2 linked regions of the Homo sapiens genome follow. The protein of the gene in region 1 interacts with the protein of each later gene in a pairwise test. Each region holds a gene or a part of one and is shown in the gene's direction. Other genes may lie near its edges.

The links. Proteins that work in one complex are often made in the same cells at the same time.
Region 2: the proteins of AGT (region 1) and TMEM185A interact in binary tests that used the Homo sapiens proteins (3 or more experiments, as listed by UniProt).

What each region holds. Positions count from the first base shown.
Region 1 is NC_000001.11:230,704,123-230,707,622, reverse strand, and holds part of AGT (angiotensinogen precursor), read left to right. Parts: intron 1-1,422; coding exon 1,423-1,690; intron 1,691-3,285; coding exon 3,286-3,430; intron 3,431-3,500. UniProt on the Homo sapiens protein: Essential component of the renin-angiotensin system (RAS), a potent regulator of blood pressure, body fluid and electrolyte homeostasis.
Region 2 is NC_000023.11:149,625,293-149,628,792, reverse strand, and holds part of TMEM185A (transmembrane protein 185A), read left to right. Parts: intron 1-3,500.

The sequences.
Region 1 (3,500 bases):
ACCCTGCAGTTTCCCGCTCACATGCCCTTCCGAGACTGAGTGCTCCGAGGACTGAGGACGAGAAATATGCCAGGTCTGCCACTGCCTTCTTACGAGACCCGGACCCAGGGGAGGCACAGCCATGCCCAGCTCCTGCCTGCCAGTTCTGTCCTCCCAGCTGCCCTACTTTCATGCTGGGACCTCCAATTCAGTACAAAGGGAGACCTCACTGTTTCTGAACCATCTCTACTCAGACTCCCAAGTGCCACGTGCCCAGGGGACTGTTCTGTGACAAACTTATACACAACTTCACCCTATTCTCCTAAGAACAACCGCAGAATAGGCCTTTCAGGATGAGTGGGAGGACAGCCGAGGGCAGGGATGTGCTAGTGTAAGGTCGAGGCAGAGGGTGGGCTGCTGTCATGGAAAGACCCCAGGTAACTGCGTCACACACAAATTTGTGTCCTTCTCCCACAACGGGCTCTCCCGAGTTCTCTGTCATCTGCACGGCCCTGTGAGCAGGAGGGGAAACAGAGGGCTCACCCCTGCCCCCAAGGCCCAGTGTGCAAATCCATTCATCACAACGAGGTTGTGTGAGTCTCCCCAGTAGCAAGGGCTGCTGAGGAATGGAGCCCTCGTTTCCGGGGCCTGCGTGGCCCACTCTGTATTCTATGACTGTGATGGGGGAGGGTGGGGGCCACAGGACAGCTGGTGGGCTCTGCCATGGCTGGGGCTAGACATGGATTAAAAAGTGAGTATGAGCAGGGGCCTCTAGGAGTGGTGGGATAGTGCGGTGGTGGCCACATGTCATTCTACGTGCGTCCAAACCTACAGAATGTAAAACACCAGGAGGGAGACTCAAAGAAAACTATCAACTTTGAGTGCTGAGGACGTGTCAGTGTAGGTTCGTCAGTTGCAACAAATGGGCCACGCTGGTGTGAGATGTTGATCACGGGGGAGGCTGTGTAGTGGGGGACAAGAGTTATATGGGAACTTTCTGTACTTTCTGCTCGATTTTGCTGTGAACCTAAAGTCACTCTAAAAAATAACATCTCTTAAATTTTTTAAAAAGTGAGTGTGTCAAACCACAGCCTTTGGGTCAGGACAGTTCTAGGTTTGAGTTGACCTGGCAGGTACCAGTGGCTTATGTCCCTTAAGGTGACAGATGCAAAACCCCCGGTTTGGTGCCTGGCATGTTGTGTGTCTTGCAGGTGGCGGTTAGGGCTGCCTCAGTGAACTCAAATGGCTGCATTTTACAGGAGAAATATTTGAGCCACACTTGCGGTCCTGTGGCCAGGAGAATGCAGAGTGGCCTGGGGGGGGCCAAGGAAGGAGGCTGAGGCAGGGCGAGGGGCAGGATCTGGGCCTTTGGTGTCTGCCAGCCCTCATTCCTGCCCCTGTCTTGGGTGACTCTTCCCTCCCTGTCTCCTGTCTGGATTTCAGGGAAGATGAAGGGCTTCTCCCTGCTGGCCGAGCCCCAGGAGTTCTGGGTGGACAACAGCACCTCAGTGTCTGTTCCCATGCTCTCTGGCATGGGCACCTTCCAGCACTGGAGTGACATCCAGGACAACTTCTCGGTGACTCAAGTGCCCTTCACTGAGAGCGCCTGCCTGCTGCTGATCCAGCCTCACTATGCCTCTGACCTGGACAAGGTGGAGGGTCTCACTTTCCAGCAAAACTCCCTCAACTGGATGAAGAAACTATCTCCCCGGTAGGAGCCTCCCGGTCTCCCCTGGAATGTGGGAGCCACACTGTCCTGCCCAGGCTGGGGGCGGGGTGGGGAGTAGACACACCTGAGCTGAGCCTTGGGTGCAGAGCAGGGCAGGGCCGCGGTGGCACGGGGCTGGGCAGGCGGCCTGTGTGTCTGTCTACCAGTCCTCTATCCAGCCAGCACCCAGCTCTCCAGTTAGTGTCTGTCTTTCAAGTGCAGGCAAGGTAAAGGAGGAGAGGAAGAATGCTTTTTCTACACTTACACTTGCCTGGTAGTTTTGGAGGGGGAGAAAACATTGCAATCCGCCCTCTGAGAGAGGACCATTTTGGTCCCACACCTGACACACAGCACACCTGTGACATCCAAGAGCTTCTTGGAACTGACTTGCCAGGAGGGTTCGGACTTCGCGTGAGCGGGGGTGGGGCCTTCTCAGGGAGCGTCCCTTGACTCCAGAACGCCCTTGCTGGCGGCTGGCGGCTGGGTGGGGATAGGTGTTGTTAGCTCCTCTTTCCTGCTGCAATTCCTTTCCACAGAGCCCTGGACTCAAACTACACATCACCCCAGATCATCGAGGCCTGGAAATCTGCTCCCAGAGGCAGGCATTGAGTGACACGATGGCTTGACATCAACTCTGGGTGTTTTTTATGTTTTAAAAATTGTGATGGTAAAATATACGTAACAAAATTTGCCATCGTAACCATTTTCGAGTGCACAGTTCAGTGGTACTAGGCCCATTCACACTGTTGTGCAGCCATCACCCCCGTCCATCTCCATTTATCTTCTCAACTTCCCAAACTGAAGCTCTGTCCTGCTGAAACACTAACTCTCCATTTCCCCTTCCCCTTGGCCCCGGCAACCACCACGATGTCCTCGAGGTTCACCCATGTTGTAGCACATGTCAGAATGTCCTTCCTTTTGAAGGCTGAATAATATTCCATTGCATGTGGTTACCACCTTTTGTGTATCCACTCATCCATCGATGGACACGTGGGTTGCTTCCACCTTTGAGCTGCTGTGAATAGTGCAGTGTACCCTGTAAACATGGGTGTACTGTCAGCTCTTATAAGTGCTTGATACATCACTGGAAATGTCCATGGGCTCTGAAGGATGCCAAAAGATGGAAGAGGCTCTATACGAAGATCAATCGAGTTGACATAGCAACGTGTCCAGCACGAGGTTGACACTGTACCCTCCTGCCTCTCTCCTTTTCATGGGTGTCATGTCATCAAGAACACTGCTGTGGCAGTAGTAAGACACAGTGCATTATTTCAGAGAATAGCATTTAAAAATTACCCAAGTAACACACCTTCAATGCAGCCAACCTAAAAACAGAATGCACCAAAGGACAACCATTCCTAGGTCCTCATCGGTAAATCTTCTATGTCCCTCACATAGTATTGCAAATGACATGAAGGATTTTTATTGTAGGTTTTGCTGAAATTTTCCCCAAGGGGGAGGATGACTTAGTTGGGTGATGGGGGGAGCAAACATCCCTGTCGTCAGGGTTGGGTGCAAGGAGCATAAGCCTGCCTGGCCTCTGGGAGAGCCCTCACTGTGTGGCCTGGAGCCTTCCTAACTGTGCATCATCTCCCCAGGACCATCCACCTGACCATGCCCCAACTGGTGCTGCAAGGATCTTATGACCTGCAGGACCTGCTCGCCCAGGCTGAGCTGCCCGCCATTCTGCACACCGAGCTGAACCTGCAAAAATTGAGCAATGACCGCATCAGGGTGGGGGAGGTATGTGTGAGCCTGTGTCTGTGCCTGACCTGGGTTCCAAGTGTGCACAGGGTGGGAGGCATGGATGTAA
Region 2 (3,500 bases), on another chromosome or scaffold:
GCAGCCATTGCTTTGGAGAGATGGGAGAGAACATGGCACTAAGGCAGAATATGGCTATATTTACTTTGAAGAGCATGTCTTTGTCATAGAAATAGTCACTGTCATGGTTTGGTGGGTCCCAAGGCATGGGTCATGGCTCCAGATCCCCTTTCCAGCCTTTTGGATCTTGGTAAGTCTGAACCCACTGCTGCGTTGGCAAGGCTCTGGAAACTATAGTGACAGAGAATGATTCACAAGTGTCAACACTCAGATGTACAGGGCTGCCAGCTGACCCACTCTACCTATTTCCATCTGGCACTGAACTGGTTGATCATGAACTTCTTTTCATAATTGCTTTTTAGTTATGCAGGTTAAGACATGCCGAAACAGATGTACCGGACCCACAAACAAGTCCTTCCTTGAATGCCTGAGGCTTCCTAACAGTGAAAGAGCCCTGTTCTTAGAGTAGGCAAACTGATTCTGAGGCATTGTAGGTGGTAGGGATCTGGTAGTAGGTAGCATTAGGTGGGCTCCCGGCACTCACCATGGAGCCTTGAAATTTTCTGCTACTTTGGGGGAGTTGCTGGTTCAGAGAAGGCCCTTCCACCCTGGTAGCCATGTGGCACTGGAAGGCTGTGAAAACTCTGCTGGGCCTTCTTAGTCATCTGTTGTGAGCTCCTGATGGGAGTGTGGTGTATCCCTCAGGTGTGCTAGACTGGAACAAAGGCTGAGAAGTGTTGCTCTGGGGGTTCCAACTTGTGGGCATGGGGTACTGATGAGATCAGTAGTGTTTGGAGACTTCTGTATGCTCCATCTTCAGAAGACATTCTGGAGTCCATATAAGTTATCTTGTCTCTTGTTTGAAGCAGGAAAAAGGAATGCGATTGCTGGTAATATAGTTCACTAAAGTCAGCTACCTGGCCTCTAACAGTTATTTGCAAAGTATATTATAACATTGATTCCTCAAACATCTAGATTCCTATCTCGTGCCAAGTGATGTACTAGGTGCTCTAAGTACAAAAATAAAGGAATATAGTCCTCCTCTCAATGCGTAAGCCTAGTGGAAGAAGCAGAAATGAAAGGGAAATAAGAATTCAATAGAGTATGAGGCATTACAGTGAAAGAAACCAAATGTCTTAGAAGTACAAATGGCAGAGCTACTAATTCTGTCTCGAGCAGGCAGGGAAGAGTCTATAGTGGAAATGACTTTTGAGCTAGATTTTGAATTGAGCTAGTCTTTTGAGCCAGACTTTTGAGCTAGAATTGTAGGGTTGTCATCAGACCAGAGAGTAGGAAGGGTACCTTGTGAGGAAGAGAGAGAGAGATCAGATTGTTACTGTGTCTATGTAGAAAAGGAAGACATAAGAAACTCCATTTTGATCTGTACTAAGAAAAATTGTTTCTGCTTTGAGATGCTGTTAACCTGTAACTTTAGTCCCAACCCTGTGCTCACAGAAACCTGTGCTGTAATGAATCAAGGTTTAATGGATTTAGGGCTGTGCAGGATGTACCTTGTTAACAATATGTTTGCAGGCAGTATGCTTGGTAAAAGTCATCGCCATTCTCCATTCTCGATTAACCAGGGACACAGTGCACTGCGGAAGGCCGCAGGGACATCTGCCCAAGAAAGCCTGGGTATTGTCCAAGGTTTCCCCCCACTGAGACAGCCTGAGATATGGCCTTGTGGGAAAGGAAAGACCTTACCACCCCCCAGCCCGACACCCGTAAAGTGTCTGTGCTGAGGAGGAGTAGTGAAAGAGCGGGGCCTCTTTGCAGTTGAGATAAGAGGAAGGCTTCTGTCTCCTGCTCATCCCTGGGAATGGAATGTCTCTGTGTAAAGCTGACCATTCCCATTCGTTCTATTCTGAGATAGGAGAAAACCACCCTGTGGCTGGAGGCGAAGTATGCTGGCAGCAATACTGCTCTGTTACTCTTTGCTACACTGAGTTGTTTGGGTAAAGAGAAACATAAATCTAGCCTGCGTGCACATCCAGGCACAGTACCTTTCCTTGAACTTATTCATGATACAGATTCCTTTGCTCACGTTTCCCTGCTGACCTTCTCCCCACCTGTTGCCCTGCTACACTCCCCTCGCTAAGATAGTAAAAATAATGATCAGTAAATACTGAGGTAACTCAGAGGCTAGCGCTGGTGCGGGTCCTCCGTATGCTGAGTGCCGGTCCCCTGGGCCCACTGTTCTTTCTCTATACTTTGTTTCTGTGTCTTATTTCTTTTCTCAGTCTCGTCCCACCTGACGAGAAATACCCACAGGTGTGGAGGGGCTGGCCCCTTTCAGTATCTCAGAAGGGACAAAGTACACAAAGGCATGGGGTCATGATAGTGCCTGGTATGTTCAGGTAGTGAAGAGGTCCATGTGGTATGAGCACTGCAGATGATATGTGTCGTATGAATTAAAAATACATAGTTACTGCAAATAGTTTTTACAGGTTATTGTTTTTAAGAAAGCAGTATCTAATGCACGAGTGTACTGTCAGTACTGTCAATGAACTACTTACCACTCAAGTGACTGCTTATCTGTTGTTCTGTCCTCTCAAGCCACCTACAGTCAGAAAATGGTCTTGATTTTACTGATGTTGCTGTTAATAATAGCTGTGACTTCTTGAGTACCCACCACATGCCAGGCCCAATGTAGGGGCTTTGCATCCATTATCCATGATCTTTACAACAACCCTGCAAAATTAGGTATCAGCCTTATTTTAAAGTCTTGACAGCTTGTGACTTCCCTGAAGTTGCATAGGCAGGAAGAATCTAAGTCAACATTCGAATCCACGTCAGTCTCATGAAGCCTGTGCTCTTTCCTGCGTGCCATGCCATAGTTCTAGTTAAGTGACAACTCCTTTCCTCCATGACATTGTAGATCCAGTATGCTAAGGAACCCTCTATTTACAAATTGTAAGTGATTAAACAAAACAAACCTGTTAGTGGCGCTTATACATCCAAATGAGTGTTGTTATTCAAAGAGGTTACTTGGGGAAAGAGAATGTATACACCTATTCCATTGTTCATACTCCTTGTTACTCATCTGGAATTCCCTTTAAAGTCAGTTTACATATCACATAAGAAGATCCATCTCATTGCTTTATGATCATCTATCATTTTCAACCAAAATAGTTCCACCTAGTTTGATCACACATCTTATTCACTAACCTTGGCTCTGACTGACTGTTTGCCATTTCCAAAATTTGAATCCACCCTCAGTGAAAATTTAGCACCATTTGGGATAGTCAGAAGATCAGACTGCAGGTTCTCAAGGTGCTTCCAAGAAGAAAGCTTCAAAGATGATTTGAGTAATGAAGTACCATTGGAATTACTGCATTGCCTCCCAAGGGGACTGGTTAAAGGAGAGAAATCTCATTTGAATGTATAATTTCCAGTTTTAAAAGTATCATTCCTATTACTTGATAATTACACACACATTGTTCTTAGCTGTGTTCTTTGAGGGCCAGGATTTGGAGGTGCTGAATTACGTGCTGAATGAGTGGATGTTGGGTACAAATAGA